Linked DNA regions of Homo sapiens. The protein of the gene in region 1 purifies or fractionates together with the protein of each later gene. This does not show direct contact. Each region holds a gene or a part of one and is shown in the gene's direction. Other genes may lie near its edges.

Region 1 (7,121 bases):
GAAGCCTGAAGGATAAAGAGTACAGGTAAGAAGCCTCCCAGGAACAAGCTGGTTCAGGTTCAGATCCCAGACCCTGTGTCTTCAGCTGGGCTGGCTATAGTCTGGGCTCAGGGTCCTGGCTTCAGCCAACGGGGTCCACTAGTGGCAGGGTTGGGGGCTAGATGGCCTCTGTCCTGGGGAGGATAGAGTTGATGCAGAGTCATTAACCCCAGAGGCTTATATCAGCTGCTGCTGCTGCTTACGCAGTAAGCCAGGAAAACTGAGAGCTCCAGGGTTAGTATTTTTGCTCTGAAGACCTGGGAGTTTCAGGGTAGAGATGTAGTGGCCTGCGTACAAAGCAATTCTCACTAAAATTTAAAAGTTGACTTTCTGGTCCCACTGCCATCCCCTTAAGTCTAGTCACTATCATCTCTTGTCCTGACAGCTCAGCTTCTTACCTGGCCTCCCTGCCTCCATTCTTGCTCCCCAAGCAACAACCAGAAATCGAAAACATCTTAGCAATTATGAGCACATCACCATACCTAGGGTTTCAATAACTGCCCTTTGCATTTAAAATTTAAACTCTTTTTAAACTGTGGCCTACAAGACCCTGTTTGCTGTGGCCCCTGGCCACTCTTCCAACCTCATCTCCTCCATCCTGTGTTCAAGCTACACTGGCCTTTCAGTGTCTTCACTTCTCTGGGTCTTTCTGCAGGCTGTTCCCTGAGCCTGGAAGGCCCCCTACTCCCACGCCACCCTACTTCCACCCCTTTACCTGACTCTTTCCTAGTCATCCTTCAGGTCACACCTTAAATGTCACTTCCTCAGAGAAAGCTTCTGCCTCATGATTGCCCTCCCATACCCATTCAAATGTACTTTTTAATAAATGGGGACTTTCAACATAATTTGTAATTATACAGCTTTCATAACTTTTCTTTTTTTCTTTTTTTGAGACGGAGTCTCGCTCTGTCACCCAGGCTGGAGTGCAGTGTTGCGATCTAGGCTCGCTGCAAGCTCCGCCTCCCGGGTTCACGCCATTCTCCTGCCTCAGCCTCCGGAGTAGCTGGGACTACAGGCGCCCGCCACCACGCCCGGAGAATTTTTTGTATTTTTAGTAGAGACGGGGTTTCACCGTGTTAGCCAGGATGGTCTCTATCTCCTGACCTCGTGATCCACCCGCCTGGGCCTTCCAAAGTGCTGGGATTACAGGCGTGAGCCACCGCGCCCGGCCTCTTTTTCTTTTTTTTGAGACAGGGTCTCACTTTATCACCCAGGCTGGAGTGCAGTGGCGCCATCTCGCCTCACAGCAACCTCCACCTCCCAGGCTCAAGCGATTCTCATGCCTCAGCCTCCCAAATAGCTGGGACTACAGGCGTGCGCCACCATGCCTGGCTAATTTTTTTTTGTATTTTTTAGTAGAGAGGGTTTCGCCATGTTGACCAGGCTGATTTTTTTTTTTCATTTTTTAAATAGGAATGGGGTCTCGCCTTGTTGCCAGGGCTTGTGATCCTCCCACCTTGGCTTACCAAAGTCCTGGGATTACAGGCGTGAGCCACCGCACCTGCCCTGGATTCATAATTTTTAAATATCTGCCTCTTCCACTTTGTAACTTCATTCAGTGAAGAGTCACCAGTGTCTTGCACAGTGGCTACAATATAGGGATAGCCCTATAAACTTTCCTGAATGGGTGAACAACTATATCTAGCTCCACAGCACCGATGAAGAGAATTTCCAGACCACTAGATTTTTCTGGGGCATGGGATCTTCTCCTCAGCACCAAAGTTTAATGTTGTACCTGGACTTGAGTCCCTGGTTTCCTTAACCCAGAGAGACTGCGGAATGTTGAAAGATAAAAACTGCTGTCATGGGCGGGCGCGGTGGCTCACGCCTGTAATCCCAGCACTTTGGGAGGCCGAGGCGGGCAGATCACGAGGTCAGGAGATCGAGACCATCCTGGCTAACACGGTGAAACCCCCGTCTCTACTAAAAATACAAAAAAATTAGCCGGGCGTGGTGGTGGGCGCCTGTAGTCCCAGCTACTTGGGAGGCTGAGGCAGGAGAATGGCGTGAACCCGGGAGGCGGAGCTTGCAGTGAGCCGAGATCGGGCCACTGCACTGCAACCTGGGCGACAGAGCAAGACTCCGTCTCAAAAAAAAAAAAAAGAAAAAAAGAAAACTGCTGTCACAAGTCTGTTAGTCTATCAACAAACTACCAAGTCACTACTGTGTACCAAGGATGGCATTAAGGCTTTAGCTGTCTTTGTTTACTGCCCAAATCACAGCCATCAGTTAGAGCTCCCATGGCTTGGCACTGGGCTATACAGTCCTGGGAGTGGGGACTCCCTCTCGGATACAAATACACCCCCAGAAAGCCTTCCTGGACTAGCGTCAAACTCACTCCCTCCTCCCCAACCCTTGCTTGCCTTTGTGTGTGCTTATTTGTGTAAGTTGTGGGTATACGTATGTGCTCACTTATGTGCATAGATGTATACATTTATGTGCTTGTGTAGGTGTAAACGGTTTGTGCGTGTGTGCCCACGTGTAGGAATGTGTGCTCCTGTGTACATGTGAATGCTCACATACATATCTCCAGCCTGTAGTATCCTTCCTTAGCTGTCCCTTCTGGTCGCACCCTAAGTCACCTGGGTCGGCGCTAGTGGGCGGGGAGGGGCGAGTGGGGAGATCTGCTTTGTCGTGGGAAGGTGAGGAGTCAGAGCTTCAGCCTCAGGCTGCGCCCACTTTATGTCCTTGGACCACCACCCACTTATTCCGGCCGCCCGCTCCCAGACCTGTCCTGCTCTGAACTCGCAGGGTCCCCAAGGTGACCCTTGGCCCCCAACCCGAGACGCGCGCAAGCTGGACGGCCAGCCCCGCCCTGCAACGCAGTCCCACCCGTTGCCGCTCACCGTGGGCCGCGACGCACGCGGGGAGCCAGAGCACGAGACAACACCAGCCCGCGGCGCCGGGGACCATCTCCAGGGCCGGGCCCGGCCCGGCGCCGCGTTTCCTCTCGCCGCCCCGCCGCGCGTCGCTCGCAGGACTTCAGCCTGACAGCTGCTCCGGCCTCCCGCCCACATACCCGCTCTCGCCGCGGGCTGGACGACGGGAACGAGGCTCAAGGCTGATTGGCTCTGACGCCTGCTCATGTAGCCACACTTTCCGCCTCTGCGCCTTAGCCTACTTCCTATTGGTCGAGAGAAGTGGAGCCGGGGGCTGATTGGCTTAAACTCTTAACAGCTACAACCGGCCTTCGCCTCAGCCCCGCCCCAGCATACTCTCCGGGTCCTCGCTGGCGGTGGGCGGGCCAGGGAGGACAAGCACTGGAGGTGTGCCCGTAGCCGGACTTGCTTCAGCTGTCGATAGTCGAGGCCGTTAACCCTTGCGGTCTCGGTCCTGTCCACTCCAAGGCCGCCTCGATTGACGACGATTAGCCTTCTCCCAGCTGCGCTTCCCTCCTCCCAGCTGCGCTTCCCTCCTCCCCACGCCTTCACGGGAAGGCACTCGTCTTGCGCCAGGGGGTCTTCCGCCCAGTGCCACCAACGCTTGCGCGCTCACCGTGGATAGGCGCTGGGGCCGCGGCCTGGCGCACGCCATCCACGAGGAGCCTCTGGCCAGTGCAAAGCCAGAAAACGGGCATTGGGGGCAGCTTCCCACGCTCGTCCCGTTGACACTGACTATGTAACTGTGACACTGGACACCTTGACCTCTCAGCCTCCTTTCTGTCATCAGTAAAATGGCCTTAATAGGACCAACGCAATAGGGTTGTGAGGATTAAATGAGATCGCTCACGTAAAGTGCTTTGGCACCAGCCTATCCCACACTTTGCGTCCCACACTTTTGCCTTTATTGCATTCCTTGGTCTGGCGTCCGGGGATGGAGGAGGGTGGAATTAAGTTAGTAGGTGATGCGGGCCGAGCAAAGACCCTCCGTGCTCTAAGAAGCACGACCGAAATGCGGCGACCCCTCTTTAATGAACGCCCCTCACTAGAGAGTCCCCGAAGCCCAGCCTCAGGTCCTTCTAGCCGCACCGAGTCGGTGGTAACGAACCATAGAGTAGCGGAAGTGGTCCGTTCTCTTCCTCTCCCGGCCCAAGCTTCTGGGTATTTCTATTGCGCGAGGCATTGTGGGTTGCTGGGCGGCCCGGTCTCGGAGAAGAGGGGAGAGTGGCGGGCCGCTGAATAAGCTTCCAAAATGATGGTGAGTGGCGTCTCGCGCATCCGTCGCCATCAGCTGCCATCTGGCCGGTGGCCGGCGCCGCTCGGCCTGGGCTTGCTCTGTAGGACCCTCTTTTGCTTGCCGCCTCTGTCCTCGCCCAGATCCCCAGCTTAGGGGCGACCCCAGCCAGCCGCGGCCTGGCTCGGCCCGAGCACGGCGCTGGAGCCGTTGGCGAGGGCTGCGTGGGGCTTTAGAGGAGTCTCTGGGCTGGCCGGTTGGGGACTACAAGTCCCAGGGTGCTTCGGGCCCGCGAACCCACGTCGGGGACCTCTTTTTTAGCCCCGCATGATCGGGACTTGCGTGAAACGAGTGCAGGTCGGCCGTGGTTACGCGGTCGGCAGCTAGACTTGGAAGCTGGGGCTGCTCTGAGATTTGCGGGCTGTAAAGACGTGTGCTTCTTGGAACCGGCACAGGCACATTGGGGACCTCATATTGTGCCCGCCTAGGGACTCACTATGTTCACTCGCTGACCCTCACCGCAGCGTGCAGAGAAGCAGACGCCTTCCCTAGTACTTTTAATTCATTCACTCATTCGCTCAGTCATTAAATAAACGCGTCTTTAGTGCCTACTGAATGTACCAGGCCCTGGTGGTTGCTGGGGGTTGCAGCCTCTCAGCCAGGAGAACGGGAAAGGTAGATGGAGACACTGTATCGGAGGTGGGAAGACCCAGGCTCGGACTCTGGTGACATAAGAAAGGCTTTTCTAGTTGGCTACCTAACTCTGGGTCTCGTTTTCTTGAAATTTGGGGCGAGGGAGTTGCTGTGAGTCCTGGAGCCACCTAAAGTGCTCCTTGTAGCCCTACTTCCCACACTTCTTTTCTCTGTCTCTCGGAGCTTTAGATACTTTCCGTGGGTCCCAAGCCTCGATGGTATCTCCTGGGTTGTTATTGAGTAGGGCCAGCTTCCGAGGTGGTGTTTGACCCTGACTGAGATACTGCTTTCTGTGCACTTGGCAGTTCACTTATTCATTTTGGCCTGTCCGACTCTATCTTCTGCTCTTTTCCTGCTTCCTGCAGCTTTTCTCTGTCCTGTTAGGGACGCAGACACCTTTTAGGTGTTCTACCAAATGCCCTATGAATCCCGCTTGTACCCAAGGTAGAAGGAAATTAGCATTTAACAGTACTTCCTCTCCCCTTTATGTCTCTAGCATTGCTCATTCTTGAAGTCGTCTTCATCTTCTGTGCAGAGGCAGCATAGTACAGCAGTTGAGAGTAAGGCCTCTGGAGCTACACTGAATGCCTAGGTTTGTAACTTAGCTCTGCCACTTACTAGCTGTGTGACTTTGAGCATGTTATTTAATTTCTGGTTCTCAGTTTGTCAGTGTGCCTAGCAGATAGTAAGCACTCAGCAATGTTAGCTCTTACTCGGCGAGGTGGTTGTTTGCTTCCTTTCATCTCTGAAATCAGTCCATCCCGCTGCCAGGGCTTCCGTAAGAGCTTTGGTTCACATTCACACAGCTAGGGATCAGAACCGCCATTCTCTGCCGTGATAAAACTTCACCAGTGGGCTCTAGATCATCACACTTGGATTTTCCCTGAACTGACCCCTCCTCTGTCAGATTGACGTTTCCCTGCTGTATTGGCTCTTGATATCTCCTCCCCATTTTTGGAATGTGAAACTTCTATCTCCAAGAGTCTTCCTGTCTTCAAATTGGCCCCTGATATTCTAGAATACTTCTGTAATCGAAAGAGAGGTGAAAAGGTCCCCTGAAACCTCAGTCCTGTGATGTTGGTACAGCTTGCATAAAATGTATGTCCTTGCCTTTGTGGCGTTGAGCGCTGTGTGCCTTGGCATAGACACACTTGTTTTGTAAGCCATTAAGCTTAATGATGCTTAGTGAAAGTTTTAAAGTAGGATGAAGAGGAAGATCAGTAAGCTGAAATTCCAAAACCTTCCATTATACCTGTGGCCAATTACTGGAGTCTGCTCTTGTTTCTTTTTCTTTTTTTTTTTTCCCGAGATGGAGTCTTGCTCTGTTGCCCAGGCTGGAGTGCAGTGGCACCATCTTGGCTCACTGCAACCTCCATTCCCAGGTTCAAGCAATTCTCCTGCCTCAGCCTCCCAAGTAGCTGGGATTACAGGCATACGCCACCACGCCTGGCTAATTTTTGTATTTTTAGTAGAGACGGGGTTTCACCGTGTTGACCAGGCTGGTCTCGAACACCTGACCTTGTGATTCACCCACCTTGGACTCCCAAAGTGCTGGGATTACAGGCGTGAGCCACCGCACCCGACCTTGTTTCTTATTTATTAGAGGAATAAAAAAAAGGAGCGAGGTTGAAAGTAACTAAGGGATGGAAACTGGACTTTGCATACAGTGCCTGCTGCTGGGGAACTGTTAGAAGAGGACCTATCCTGCTTGTCTTGGCTTGACTCAATCCAGCTCTGCCACCTTTTCCACCCCATAGATGCTCTCTACCCAGCCTGCTGTTTCTTCAGGGCCTGCAAAGCATAGGGAACCTGGGGAATCTGTGGTTAGCTGCTTCCAAGCTCTTCTTGCATTGTGCTTAAGAACTCTCAGTAAATGTAGTGTTACTGTAGTGCCAGTGCTTTTCTCCCCAAAAGTCAAGAAGCCAGTGCTGTCAAGCACTTACAAGTAGCAGTTGGATTTTCAGCCCCAAAAGCTGCTGAATATTGCTTCATGTGTGGCCAAATCTTGGCACTCTTCAAATTAAGGTTATTTTGGTCCTTGTCTTTGGAAAGCTTGTACTTAAGCTGGATGGTGATAAAAAGTTGCGAGCAAGGGCAAGTGAAGAGAAAGTTATGGGATTCCCCTATTCAGATGCCCTTGTTTATTACTGTAGAGAAAACTTCTTGGAAGAATTGGAGCTCTGAGGAATTGGTGGCCTGGTGGTGAGAAAGTGGTTTTGGTAGAAGATGGCAGAGTGACTATTTTAGATGGGGGTACACTTTGCAGGTTGAGGTGA
Region 2 (6,982 bases), on another chromosome or scaffold:
CAGGGTAATCTGGATGTCACCGAATCTCCTTGGATTGTCAACCCAATCGTACTCCAAATCTTCCATTATCCATCTTGAGGCACCTCTTAGAAAAAATAACACACTAAAAAGAAATATTTTCAACTCCAAAAAGTGTTGCTAAGACATATTTTACAGAAGTCTCTTCCTCAAAATCCTCTTTAATTGCCTTTGCTCTTTCCCCAGACTTTCTCTCCCCAAAATCGGGGCCATATTTCTTTCTCTTTCCTATTTCCACCAATTTTTCTGACCTCCTCCTCACACCTTCTCAAAATCCTACTTGCTTGTACCCAGCAGGACAAAAGCCCTGGAACACCTACTGTTCTTGAAACACAAGAAAGTGAAAAGAAAAGTCCCAGTTTACACAGGAATTTTAACAGAGTACTGTACTTTCAAAAAAGAATAAACCTGGCTGGGTGCGGTGGCTCACACCTGTATTTTGAGAGGCCAAGGCAGGCAGATCACCCAAGTTTGGAAGTTCCGGACCAGCCTGACCAACATGGAGAAACCCCGTCTCTACTAAAAATACAAAAATTAGCCGGGCCTGGTGGCGGGTGCCTGTAATCCCAGCTACTCGGGAGGCTGAGGCAGGAGAATCGCTTGAACCCGGGAAGTGGAGGCTGCAGTGAGCCGAGATAGCGCCATTGCACTCCAGCCTGGGCAAATAGAGCAAGACTCTGTCTCAGAAAAGAAAAAAAAATAAAATAAAATAAACCCAGTCTGGAAATTCTATCAGTTCAACTAATGAAGATATAAAGCACCTTCCTATCCAGTTTTCTCCCCTGCCCTGCTCCAAAGCCACTGTCATAGAGAACCAACATAACTGATAAAGAGTATGGTATATGGTATAAATAATGAAAGTAATCTCATATTTGTTTCCAATTGTAACTAGTGTACCATTATGTTCGATTAAGAGGCTAATTGGAATTCTGCATGAAAACATCATTGAAAAAGCACACACCAACCGGATGCAGTGGCTCACGCCTGTAATCCCAGCACTTTGAGAGGCCAAGGCTGGCAGATTGCTGGAGCTCAGGAGTTCAGGCCCACCCTGGGCAACATGGTGAAACCCCATCTCTACTAAAATACAAACAATTAGCCAGGCATGGTGGTGCGCGCCTGTAGTCCCAGCTACTCGGAAGGCTGAGGCACGAGAATCGCTTGAGCTCAGGAGGCGGAGGCTGCAGTGAGCCGAGATCAGGCCACTGCATTCCAGCTTGGGCTACACAGTGAGACTCCATCTCAAAAAAAATTAAAATAAAATAAAGTAAAAAGCCTGGTGGGGTGGCTCACACCTGTAATCCCAGCACTTTGGGAGACTGAGGCAGGTGATCACCTGAGGTCAGATGTTCAAGACCAGCCTGGGCCACATGGTGAAACCCCATCTCTACTAAAATACAAAAAAAGTAGCCAGGTGATGTGGCGCGCCCCTGTAATCCCAGCTACTTGGGAGGCTGAGGTAGGAGAATCGCTTGAACCTGGGAGGCAGAGGCTGCAGTGAGCCGAGATCGCACCACTGCACTCCAGCCTGGGTGACAGAGGAAGACCCTGTCTCAAAAAAAAAAAAAAAAAAAAAGCCAGGCGCAGTGGCTCACACCTGTAATCCTAGCACTTTGGGAGGCCGAGGCGGGCAGATTACGAGGTCAAGAGATCGTGACCATCCTGGCTAACACAGTGAAACTCCATCTCTACTAAAAATACAAAAAATTAGCCAGGTGTGGTGGCACGCGCCTGTAGTCCCAGCTACTCAGGAGGCTGAGGCAGGAGAATCGCTTGAACCCAGGAGGCAGAGGTTGCAGTGAGCTGAGATCACGCCACTGCATTCCAGCCTGGGTGACAGAGCAAGACTGTCTCAAAAACAAAACAAAACAAAAAAACCAGAAAGAAAGAAAAGAAAAGAAAAGAAAAGAAAAAGCACACAACTCAATACCCACTTTCTAAACCGTGTGATTTTGATTTAGTCTTATTTGATTATGAAAAGAACAGTATTGGTCAGGTATGGTGGTTTATGCCTATAATCCCAGCATTTTGGGAGGCCGAGGCTGGTGGATCATTTGAGGTCAGGAGTCCGAGAACAGCCTGGCCAATATGGTGAAACCCTGTCTCTACTAAAAATACAAAAATTAGCCAGATGTGGTGGCGCATGCCTGTAATCCTAGCTACTTGGGAGGCTGAGCCATGACAATCGCTTAAACCCAGGAGGCTGAGATTGCAGTGAGCTGAGATCGCACCATTGCACTCCAGTCTGGGTGATAGAGTGAGACCCAACTCAAAACAAAACAAAAGAAACAAACAAGAAGAACAGTATTATTTTAGGCCACTTAGTTTCTTAAAGTGTTCAAAATTCTTTATATACATCATCTCAATCTTTTGTCAACAGTAGGGCAGGTGCCAGAGGAGAAAAACTGAGGGTGAGGCAAGGGAAAGGAAGCCCCTGTGTAATTAGAGCAAACATCTGACGTCATTAACCCATGTATTCAACTAGACATTGGAATTTAGATGCTAAACTACCAAGAGGTTATCAACTGATGATCATTTGGTCCAGGATCAGTGATTTAGTATGACAACATTTTTGAACTTCAGGTGCAATTTGTCATTTTTTGATAAATTTATCTAGGGAAAAAAAAAGTTATTCCATAAAGATTAACAAACCACTAAGCCAGCAGGGTGAAACCAAGCTATGCATTAGGAAATACAATTCTAAATTTAGCACCCTAAATTACAGCAAGGAAAGCCCTCATACCACCATTCACAAGTCTCTGTTCAGGCAACTTATTTCTGGCAAGCTAAATCAAGGCTGTCAACTGGTTTTTGGTTTTTTTTTCCACCTCAAAATTACATTAATTATTCTGAAAAAAATACAGACATCTTCAACTTGGGGAAAGGTTACAAGTGCCGTGTGTCCTTATAAATGCTTATTTTAAAAAGTCACACGGAAGGGGGTAAAAAAAAAAAAGCAAACAAACAAACCCTGGAAGATTGGAAGATGCAGCAGAGCCCCCTTGCTCCCGAAATAAAACTCCTGGTGGCTGTAACAGCAGCGGCAGTGCTACTCCCGACAGAAGTTTTCAGCTGTCACTTCTAACAGCTGAGCGCTTCCTAGGAGAGAAGCGACAGGCCGAGAAGAGAGGTGGTTGTGGGAGGTCTGAAGATTCAATACTTGAAATTCTAGACTCGAAGGGAAACCCTCCACACTTCGCCTGCACTTACGGGACACCCAGCAAGAGCAGCCCCCGTCTCCCCAACACACGCTCACGCCACCCGCTCCCCGCCACACTCAAGTCCAACAGCTCGAGGAATCGACCACGCGCCCGTTCTCTTTCCCTCTTCAGATCGCTCGGGGCTGCGCTGACCTGGGGCTAAGGGTGCGACCTGCACCTGCGAGCCCCGCAGAGGCCTCACACCTAGGGCCATGACCGCCCCGCCCGCTCCCCTGTCTCAGGCCGCGCGACCCTCAGCTCCTCAGGAGCCCCCCTGGGTCTCCACGCTCTAGGACACACCGCGCTTCCTGAGCCCGCGCCGCCGCCCCGGCCCTGTCACCTCGGGCCCCCGGGGACCCCGGGCCTCACCCCCTCCTCCAGCTCATCCTCAGAGCCCGCGTCCTCTGGCTGGTCCAGGTCTATGTCAAACACTCCTGCCATGTCCTCAGCTTCCCTGTCTCGGAAGTCCGGGGCTGGGTAAAAGCCGTCCCGCCTCCTTCGTCGCCTCATGGGCCCGGACCCGCCGCAGCCACCACAGCCGCTGCCGCCATCACCGGCTGCTTAGGCTCAGTGCGTCTGCGCCTAGGCCTTAGACTGGCTCCTAAAGTTCAGCGTAGGAGCATGCGTACAGGGTTCCGTGAAGCCAAACAGTGGGCAGTGGACATGCGCAGAACTATCGGCAGGATCCAGGCGCTGGCAGAAACATGCGCAAAACACCAGCCGAAGTCGCGCTTGGAGGACTAGAGCATGCGCATTGTCAGCTGGAGCGTTCGGTGGACAGTGAGCATGCGTACCATATCTGAAGTTCGTAAATTGAAATTGAACATGCGTAATTAATCTTTCTGAATAGGAAAAAATATATACACAACAAAACTCTCCGTTTATGGAACATGCGCATTTGTTCTCAGTAAGTTTTTCGTTTTGAAAGTGAGCATGCGCATGGTGAGTAGGTTGGTCCGAAGTTTGAACCGGACAGAAGCGCTGGTCGGCGTCTGGCGGTGAGTCGGGTTACGTGTGGAGAACTCCTGGGGCCCGTGGGGAACGGGGGACCTTTTGGCTTTGCTCTTTACTAGTTCTGTGGCCTTGGAAAAGTCAATAACCTTTCAGAGCCTCAGTTTCCTTATCTGTAAAATGAGGATAATAATAAACCTACTTTGCCGGTTTGACATTTTAAGCACAGAGTCTGTCTCACAACCCACGGCTCATTTCCAGTGCTGCATAGACCTGATGTGAAGTCTTTATCAAAACTTGTCTTTTCCTAGGTAAAAATAATGAGGAACTGCTCTAATGTTTCTTTTGCTTTCTTTCTTTTTCAAATGGAGACAGGGTCTCGCTGTGTTGCCCAGGCTGGTCTGGAATCCCTGGGCTCAGGTGATCCTCCCGCCTCGGCCTCCCAAAGTACTGGGATTACAGGCATGAGCCATTGCGCCCGGTTAATATTTCATCTGGTTTTCTTTCTCCAAGCTGCATCTTTCTTGCTGTCCTACCTGAGCTAAACACAAAATCTTTCTTACAGGTCTTACTAAAGTTACCAGGCTAGACTAGTGGAGAAAGCGTAAGCTATTATTTAGAAGAGAGAAAATTAATGTTAATTGAATGTACAATGTTGAGCACACTTCTGTGTTCTACATGTTCATGTGGTGTGAAGGGTGGTACTACTAATTTCTTCAATCAGCATTTGTTTTGTCTTGTTTTTATTTTTTTAATTTTAATTTTTTTTTTTTCTGGAGACAGGAGGATGTCACTTTGTCACCCAGGCTGGAGTGCGGTGGCAAGATCTTGGCTCACTGCAGCCTGGACCTCCCAGGCTCAGGGGATCCTCCCACCTCAGCCTCCCGAGTAGCTGGGACTGCAGGCGCACACCACCACGCCAAGCTAATGGTTGTATTTTTTGTACAAACAGGGTTTTGCCATGTTGACCAGGTCTGGAACAGCCAGGCTCACGTGATTCTCCCAACTCAGCCTCCCAAAATGCTGGGATTACAGGTGTGAGCCACGCACCCAGCCTCTTTTTTTCTTTTATCACTCCTCAACTGAGGAGAATGTTTTGTTTTAAACATATGTTTAGGAAAAAAGTGATTACAAATCAGATTTTGGAAACTATTGAGCTGTGTATGAATGGATTCAGGTACAGTAAATCACAAATCCCAAAACCATGTAGAGAGTATGAGAACTTCCTTGAATGACTAGCTCCTTAGACAACACAGCTGTTCTATCTCCAATATTATATACGTATGTGGCATTTTAAAATGACTTTTTGGGCCGGGCGTGGTGGCTCAAGCCTGTAATCCCAGCACTTTGGGAGGCTGAGGTAGGTGGAGGTGGATCACGAGGTCAAGAGTTCAAGACCAACCTGGCCAACATGGTGAAACCCCATCTCTACTAAGAATACAAAAATTAGCCAGGCGTGGTGGCACGTGCCTGTAATCCCAGCTACTCGGGAGGCTGAGGCAGGAGAATCGCTTGAACCTGGGAGGCGGAGGTTGCATTAAGCCGAGAACATGCCACTGCACTCTAGCCTGGGTGACAGAACAAGACTCCGTCTCAGGGGGGAAAAAAGACTTTTTATTGATGTATAATTAACATACATGGCATTTTATTTGTTCTTATTAGTAATGTAGTGGTTCTCAAAGCGTATTTTTTTCGATTACAGGTTGTTTTTAGAGGTAATACACCTAGTTTGTGGCTCAGCATGTCAATTGTAACAGTGCAACTTGGTCAGTGTGGCAATCAGATTGGTTTTGAAGTTTTTGATGCTTTGCTTAGTGACTCACACAGTTCCCAGGGACTCTGCTCTATGAGAGAGAATGAGGCATATCAAGCATCTTGCAAAGAAAGATTCTTCAGTGAGGAGGAGAATGGAGGTAGGTGTGGCCCACAGTCCTCTCCTTTACTCTGATCTAACCAACCCCTTCAAAGCCAGGCCTTCCACATGGTTTTTAAACCCCATTCCTTCCCATCTCACTAGGGAATTACTTTGTTTTTGCTTTTCATTTCTATGTTAATAATCTTTGCTTTTCCAGTGGCATTTTCCCTTCTGCATGCTCAGATCTCACCAATTTAAAACCAACCAAACAAAACTCATCTATTGACTGGCTTTCTTCTTCTTATCTCTTTGCCTTTCATCTAAGATTCTCAAAAGAGGACCCTGCTGGCTGGGCGTGGTGGCTCACGCCTGTAATCCCAGCACTTTGAGAGGCCGAGGCGAGTGGATCACAAGGTCAGGAGTTCAAGACCAGCCTGACCAACATGGTGAAACCCCATCTCTACTAAAAATACAAAAATTAGCTGGGCGTGGTGGCATGTGCCTGTAATCCCAGCTACTCGGGAGGCTGAGGCAGGAGAATCACTTGAACCCAGGAGGCAGAGGTTGCAGTGAGCCGAGACCGCACCACTGCCCTCCAGCCTGGTGACAGAGCGAGACTCCATCTCCAAAAAAAATAAAAGGACCCTGCTTAACCACCTATGATCCTGCTTCTGCCCCACATAGCATCATTGAAGCTGCTCTAAGAAAAGTTTCCAGTGACCTCCGAATCACCAGATCCAACTACTGTTTTTCTTTTCTTTTTTTCTTTTTCTTGTAGAGACAGGTTCTTACTACACTATGTTGCCCAAGCTGGAGTGCGGTGGCTATTCACAGGTCTCCTGAGTAGCTGGGACTGCAGGTGCATGCCACCATGCCTGGCTCTTTCTTTTCTCTGTCTCTCTTTTTTTTTTTTTTTTTTTTGAGAGAGTCTCGCTCTGTCACCCGGGCTGAAGTGCAG
Region 3 (7,022 bases), on another chromosome or scaffold:
AATGAATATTTAGACTTAGTCATATGGATTTTTAAGAGTTAAACATGGATGACAAGATCTATGAATATATGTAGAAAAATCCTTAGGAATCTACAAAAAAGCTACTAAAACTAATAACTAATGTAGCAAAGTTATAGAAGCCAAGATTAATGTACAAAAATCAGTTGTATTTCTATATACAGTACCAATGAACAATTGGAAATGGAATTTAAAACAGTTTCATGGTCAAGCACAGTGGCTCATATGTGTAAGCCCAGCATACTGGGAGGCCAGAGTGGGTGGATCACTTGAGCCCAGGAGTTCAAGACCAGCCTGGGCAACATGGCAAAACCCTGTCTCTACAAAAAATACAAAAATTAGCTGGGTACGGTGGCTTGTACCTGTAGTCCCAGCTACTTGGGAGGCTGAGGTGGTAGGATCAATTGAGCCTAGGAGGTCAAGGCTGTAGTGAGCTGTGATTGAGCCACTACACTCCACCCTGGGTGACAAGCAAGATCCTATCTTAAAAAAAATAAAACACAATTTCATTTATAATAGCATAAAACTTGTGTAGAAATCAAGTTAATGGGCCAGGCGCAGTAGCTCATGCCAATAATCCCAGAACTCTGTCAGGCTGAGATGGGCAGATCACTTGAGGTCAGGAGTTTGAGACCAGCCTGGCCAACATGGTGAAACCCTGTCTCTACTAAAAAATACAAAAAATAAAAATTAAAATTAGCCAGGCGTGGTCACGCACGCCTATAATTCCAGCAACATGGGAGGCTGAGGCAGGAGAATTGCTTGAACCTGGGAAACGGAGGTTTCAGTAAGCGGAGATCATGCCCCTACACTCCAGCTGAGGCGACAGAGCGAGACTCAGTCTCAGAAAAAGAAATAAAGAAATAAAATTAATGAAAGAATCATAAGAAGTACACTGAAAACTTTAAAACATTGCTGAAAGAAATTAAGGCAGCCGGGCGTAGTGGTTCACGCCTGTAATATCAGCACCCTGAGAGGGCGAGACAGGCAGATCACTTGAGGCCAGGAGTTAGCGACCAGCCTAGCCGACATGGCAAAACCCCATCTCTACTAAAAATACAAAAATTGCCTGGGCGTGGTGGTGCGCACCTGTAGTCCCAGCTAAGGCATGAGAATCACTTGAACATGGGAGGCAGAGGTTGCAGTGAGCCAAGATCGTGCCACTGCACTCCAGCTTGGGTGCTAGAGCGAGACTCTGTCTGAAAAAAAAGAACTTAAAAAAGGCGTAAATTAATGGAGAAATGTGCTATGTTTATGCGTTGGAAGACTTAATATTGTAAGATGTCAGTTCTCCCCAGACTGCTCAATAGATTCAACACAATCCCAATCAGAATCTCAGCAGGCTTTTTGTAAAATTCGACAAGCTGATTGTAAAATGTACATGGAAAAGCAAAAGTAGAGAATAGCAAAACAATTTTGAAACAGAAGAACAAAGTTGGAGAACTCACTGTCTGATTTTAGAACTTACTAGAAAGCTACTATAATCAAGACAGTTTGCCTACTAGCAGACAGATAGGCAAATAAATAATGGAACAGAATAGAGTCCAGAAATAGATGAATAAATACATGGTCAACTGATTTTCAATAAAGGGGTCAAGGTAATGCAAAGGAGAAAGAATTCTCAACCAATGATGCTGGAAGAGTCAGACGTTCATATGTAAAAAAGCAAACCTTGTTCGGGAGCTGTAGCTCACGCCTGTAATCCTAGCACTTTGGGAGGCCGAGGCGTGTGGATCACCTGAGGTCAAGAGTTCGAGACTAGACTGGCCAAAATGGTGAAGACCCTTCTCTACTAAAAATATTAAAAAATTAGCCGGGCGTAGTGGCACATGCCTGTAGTCCCAGCTACTTAGGAGGCAGAGAGGTAGGAGAATTGCTTGAACCAAGGAGGTGGAGGTTGCCGTAAGCCAAGACTGTGCCCATTGCACTCCAGCCTGGGTGACAAGAGCAAAACTCCGTCTCAAAAGGAAAAACAACAACAAAAAGCAAACCTTGATTCATATCTTGTACCATATAAAAATTTAACTTGAAATGACTCAGAGACCTAAATATGAAGCCTAAAACTAGAAAACTTTTAGAAGAAAACAGGGAAAAATATTTGGGACCTGGGATTAGGCAAAGATTTCTCAACTAGGACATAAAAAATTTTTTGGGTGCGGTGCTTACGCCTGTAATCCCAGCACTTTGGGAGGCCAAGCCAGGAGGATCACTTGAGCCCAGAAGTTCGAGGCCAGCCTGGGCAACATAAGGAGACCCCATCTCTACAAAAAATTTAGAAATTAGCTGGGTGTGGTGGCACATGCCTGTGGTCCCAGCTACTCAGGAGGCTGAAGCTGGAGGATTGCTTAAGCCCAGGAGGTTGAGCCTGCAGTGAACCACGATTGCACCACTGCACTCGAACCAGTGCAACAGAGTGAGACCCTATCTCAACAACCCAAAATTATACTGCCACATTGCACATAATGCAATATTATTCAGCAGTAAGAAAAGAAGCAACTACTGATACACACAAGAACATGGATGAATCTCAAGAGCAGTGTACTGATGAAAGTAGCCAGACACAAAGACTCAAGACCATCTGATTCTATTTATATCGTATTATGGAGAGACAAAACCATAGATCAGTGGCTACTTGGGGTAGGTATGAGGGGTTGACTGCGGAGGAGCCTGGGAGAGCTTTCTGGGTTAATGGAAATGTTTTATATCTTACTGTGGGGGTTATACAACTGTACATTTGCCAAAACTCATTTAACTGTACACTTGAGTGGGTTTTATTATATGCAACTATACCTAACTTTGGGGGGAAAATGTCTGGAAGATACTGGTGTGTCTGAGACTGAGGTCAGAAAGATGAGTAGAAGGAATTTTATTTTGTGTTGTCTGGTTAGTGCTTTTCCCCTTATTGTGGATGTTTACCAAATATCCCCACTATTCCATCTTCCAGTTGGAAGTTCATAAGCAAATGTACAGTTAGTGTCCCATTGAGCCAGATTGAGTTTGACAGCAAAGATTGGAAGTTAATGGTGGGCTAAAATTGACTCTAAGAAAAAGTGATCAGAGCTAGGTGGGACTTTCTCATCAATGGCGCCGACTTTTTTTTTGCCAGTCACAGTGGTTTGGGCTCTCAAACGGTCATTTGACATACCTTTATGTGTAAACATAATGAGCCAGTGTTGAGTTTGGGGTTGGTGAGGGTTGTGCACTATTGGATTTTTAAGTGAGCATTAGTTTGTTTAATGAAATTGCAAAGGGTGTTTCATATTCCTGGCCCCTGAGCACCAAATGTCCTCAGCACTTCAGTCATTGTGGCAGCCAAGAACCACCCCTGGTCATTTTCAAATACCTTAGGGGTTTCAGGGGAAGGTGTGCCTGGCCTGGCAGATAGTGCACTTATGTAGTTGGAGTCAAGAATGCAGACTTGAGTCAGAAAACCTGTAATCTCTGTCTCCTACTGGCTTTGCAGTGTTGAGTGTAACCACCCCTTTGAGTCTGGGTGTCCTTGTCTGCCAGAGGATGGTTGGACTAGATACCCTCTCATGGCAATCGTTTTTGATTCTGCAGTTTAGTGTAGTACAGTGTCAAGACTTCTGTCACTGGCCAGGCATAGTGACTCATGTCTGTAATCCCAGCACTTTTGGGAGGCTGAGGTGGGAGGATCAGTTGAGCCCAGGAGTTCAAGGCCAGCCTGGGCAACATGTGAGGCCTTGTCTCTACAAAAAATGAACAAAATTAGCTGTGTCTGGTGGTGCATGCCTCTAACCCCAGCTACTTGAGAGGCTGAGGTGGAAGGATCACTTGAGACCAGGAGGTGGAGGCTGCACTGAGCTGTGGTTGCACCACTGCACTCCAGCCTGGGCAACAGAGCAAGATCCTGTCTTTAAAACAAAAAACAAACAAAAAAAACCTCTGTCACTGACCAGGGATCTAATGTATTTGCTGTACTGCTCACAAATGCTTATGTGGCTCAACTTTGGTATGTTACAGGTTCAGCTTGTTGGTTTAGATGAGGAGAGTTCAGAGTTTATTTGCAGAAACACCTTTGACCACCCATACCCCACCACAAAGCTCATGTGGATCCCTGACACAAAAGGCGTCTATCCAGACCTACTGGCAACAAGCGGTGACTATCTCCGTGTGTGGAGGGTAAGCGGATGCTTTATTAGCAGCCAGACAAGTGGGCTTTCTCAGCCTCAGCTGTTAGCAGTGAAAAGTCACAGAACAGACAGGGGTCAGAGGCAGCGAGTGTCATTGCAGCACAGGAGAAGCAAGCGAAGCTTAAATGGACTGGCCTCGTTTGGCTCAGCAGATTTTCTAGTATATCAAGTCAAGATTCCATGAAGTCTGGCTGCTGGCTGCAGTCAGCTCAGTCAACCCGAGGTGATGATGACGGCCTTCAGTGGAGGTGGGAATACTTGGGAACTCATATTCTGTTTGCAGCCAAGGTATTTTTGAGTAAACTAAATGAAATACCAGGCCATTGATTCTGATAAAGTGTGTGAGTGGATCTTGGAGGCTTCCCTCCACCCTCAGCTGAGCTCATCAGCAGCAGCGTCCTCTGTAGCATGGGCGTGGCCTTAGTACACCTGTGCAGAGGTTCCAGGCTGGGCAAAGTGAGAAGACCTCTCCTCTAGGAAGGTGCAGGGATGAAAATGTAGAAAACAAAGCTGGGCAGAGGAGAAAGTATGGGAAAAAGTAGCATTCAGGGAGTCCTGGGTTTATTACTGTTTTTGATAAAAATGTTTTCCCCTCATGTCTTATGTTTGCTAAGATATTTTCTAAACAGGGATTTTTTAAAAGACTTTTTATGAGGATAAGACTGGCTGATTTTTTTTAAAATTCTTGTTCCTTCAGGTTGGTGAAACAGAGACCAGGCTGGAGTGTTTGCTAAACAATAATAAGAACTCTGATTTCTGTGCTCCCCTGACCTCCTTTGACTGGAATGAGGTGGATCCTTATCTTTTAGGTAAGGGAGTTAGGGAGTATGTATTTCAGCTGGAAGAAGCCAAAATAAATTTTCTCAGATGTCACACTGGGCCATACATCCTAGAACAAGGCTCAGTGGGAAGTAGGCTAGGCGTGGAATGTGGTTATTTATTAATTCCTTTGTGTGGGTGAGCTTTCCGTGTGTATAGATCTTGTCTCTCCAGTTAGAATCTAAGGTCCTACGGTGAGGACTGAAGACTTGACTGCCTCGGTGGCTCTGCCGGTAGCCCCCACCTTGTTTTCTGTAGTCTTTATGGTATGCTGCTCCCTGGGCTGAGCAGATGAGTAAACACAAGAGGGAAGCTTGCATGAGAACCTTGGTCCCGTCAGCCCTGACTTGCACTGGTTGTTTGCAGGTACCTCAAGCATTGATACGACATGCACCATCTGGGGGCTGGAGACAGGGCAGGTGTTAGGGCGAGTGAATCTCGTGTCTGGCCACGTGAAGACCCAGCTGATCGCCCATGACAAAGAGGTAAGATGCTTTTCCATTTCGTCTTTCCTCAAATGCTTCCTGTGCCTTCCGCACAGGAAGAGGTCAGCTTGTTCTCTCATTGTTCTGCAATTTATGTAGAAAATCATAACATAACATCTTCTTGTCTAAATTGACAATAGTAATGTATCAAAAACGGGAAAACAACACTATTGTAAACTAATGCTTTTTTTTGGCTAATGTAAATGACCTATTCTACGGTCTGTCATTGTTCTTTTCATGCCAGAGGTTGCTTTTTTTAAATAACAAAGTCTCTTATAGAGGAGCTGGGAACTGATGTGATTAAAAAATAACTTTAGAGTAATACTTATCTTGAAACAGATTAGATTTGGGGAGGAAAGAAGGGAGACAGGAAGAGAAAAAATTTTCTGAGAGACAAACGTAATTATTCATTTTTCTCTATAAATGTTTTACCAAATCCTAGTATGTTCACTTAATCTTTATACTTTCATTACTGTTGGCAGTGGAGGCAATGGAATATATTTTATTTTGATGGCGATGCTTCTGTGTTTATTGGGAAAACTGAGAAGAGCTATTTGTGATTGCTTTTTTTTTTTTTTTTTTTTTTTTTTTTGAGACAAAGTTTTCCTCTTGTTGCCCAGGCTGGAGTGCAATGGCGCAATCTGGGCTCACTGCATCCTCTGCCTTCTGGGTTCAAGCAATTCTCCTGCCTCAGCTTCCGGAGTAGCTGAGATTACAGGTGCCCGCAACCACCCCTGGCTAATTTTTGTATTTTTTAGCAGAGACAGGGTTTCACCATGTTGGCCAGGATTGTCTCGAACTCTCCTGACCTCAGGTGATCCACCCACCTTGGCCTCCCAAAGTGCTGGGATTACAGGCGTGAGCCACTGCGCCCGGCCAATTGCATTTTAATCAAAGCATTCTTCTCAGTGATTTTGGAAAATCCCCATAAGTCTTTTCCTCCTACAGCCATTGCATGCTCCTGGTACTCTCATCTCCTGTGGGTACTATTTCCTGTTCTTTTCTACCTTACCCTGCACAGCTAGGGGTATTAATATCTATACAGATAAAAGGAATGCCTTGATCTTAGGTCAGAAACTTGAGGTTGTCAACAGCATAGGAAGATGTGACCCAGGTTATCATTCTTAGTAAGGGGTTGTCTTTGGCTTTCTGTACTCCTGAAGGTAAGCCCTGTTACAAGACTTCTAGAGTTGACTGCTGCTAAACCAGGGGTCAAATGAAGAGTTTGTCCCACAGAGAGGACCAGTAAGGAACTTCTGGAAACCCTCTTGGCATCAAGTTGAACAAGCGGCTACATTTTAGTTATATGACAACTTAGCCTGCTGTTGTCTGTTAGGTCCAACCCAGAAAATGGGAACTACTCTTAAGTATTTGAACTGCAGGGATTTAATCCAGGGGCTGCTTATACAGAAGATGGTAAAGCTGAGAAGCCACATAGGTAGCAGTGAGGTCATCCATAGAATGGGAGCAGCAGGAAGCTGCAGCTGCCTATAGGCCAGAGGGACCATGGGAGGAGGCAGGGTTCCTGGAGCCCAGGGGCTGGATT

What was found. The genes of interacting proteins can lie anywhere in the genome.
Region 2: the proteins of CCT7 (region 1) and TUBD1 purify together in Homo sapiens (co-immunoprecipitation; 4 studies listed by BioGRID and IntAct, with this or other methods). This does not show direct contact.
Region 3: the proteins of CCT7 (region 1) and DCAF7 purify together in Homo sapiens (affinity purification with mass spectrometry; 5 studies listed by BioGRID and IntAct, with this or other methods). This does not show direct contact.

Annotation. Positions count from the first base shown.
Region 1 is NC_000002.12:73,230,209-73,237,329, forward strand, and holds the start of CCT7 (T-complex protein 1 subunit eta), read left to right. Parts: upstream 1-4,099; 5' UTR 4,100-4,170; coding exon 4,171-4,176; intron 4,177-5,341; exon of another isoform or gene 5,342-5,437; intron 5,438-7,121. Other genes in the region: PRADC1 (protease-associated domain-containing protein 1 precursor), read right to left, coding at 1-5, 2,886-2,952. UniProt on the Homo sapiens protein: Component of the chaperonin-containing T-complex (TRiC), a molecular chaperone complex that assists the folding of actin, tubulin and other proteins upon ATP hydrolysis.
Region 2 is NC_000017.11:59,889,931-59,896,912, reverse strand, and holds the start of TUBD1 (tubulin delta chain), read left to right. Parts: upstream 1-3,969; 5' UTR 3,970-4,216; intron 4,217-5,871; 5' UTR 5,872-5,910; coding exon 5,911-6,082; intron 6,083-6,982. Other genes in the region: RPS6KB1 (ribosomal protein S6 kinase beta-1), read right to left, coding at 3,588-3,728. UniProt on the Homo sapiens protein: Acts as a positive regulator of hedgehog signaling and regulates ciliary function.
Region 3 is NC_000017.11:63,574,468-63,581,489, forward strand, and holds part of DCAF7 (DDB1- and CUL4-associated factor 7), read left to right. Parts: intron 1-4,002; coding exon 4,003-4,161; intron 4,162-4,869; coding exon 4,870-4,981; intron 4,982-5,357; coding exon 5,358-5,476; intron 5,477-7,022. UniProt on the Homo sapiens protein: Involved in craniofacial development. Acts upstream of the EDN1 pathway and is required for formation of the upper jaw equivalent, the palatoquadrate. The activity required for EDN1 pathway function differs between the first and second arches.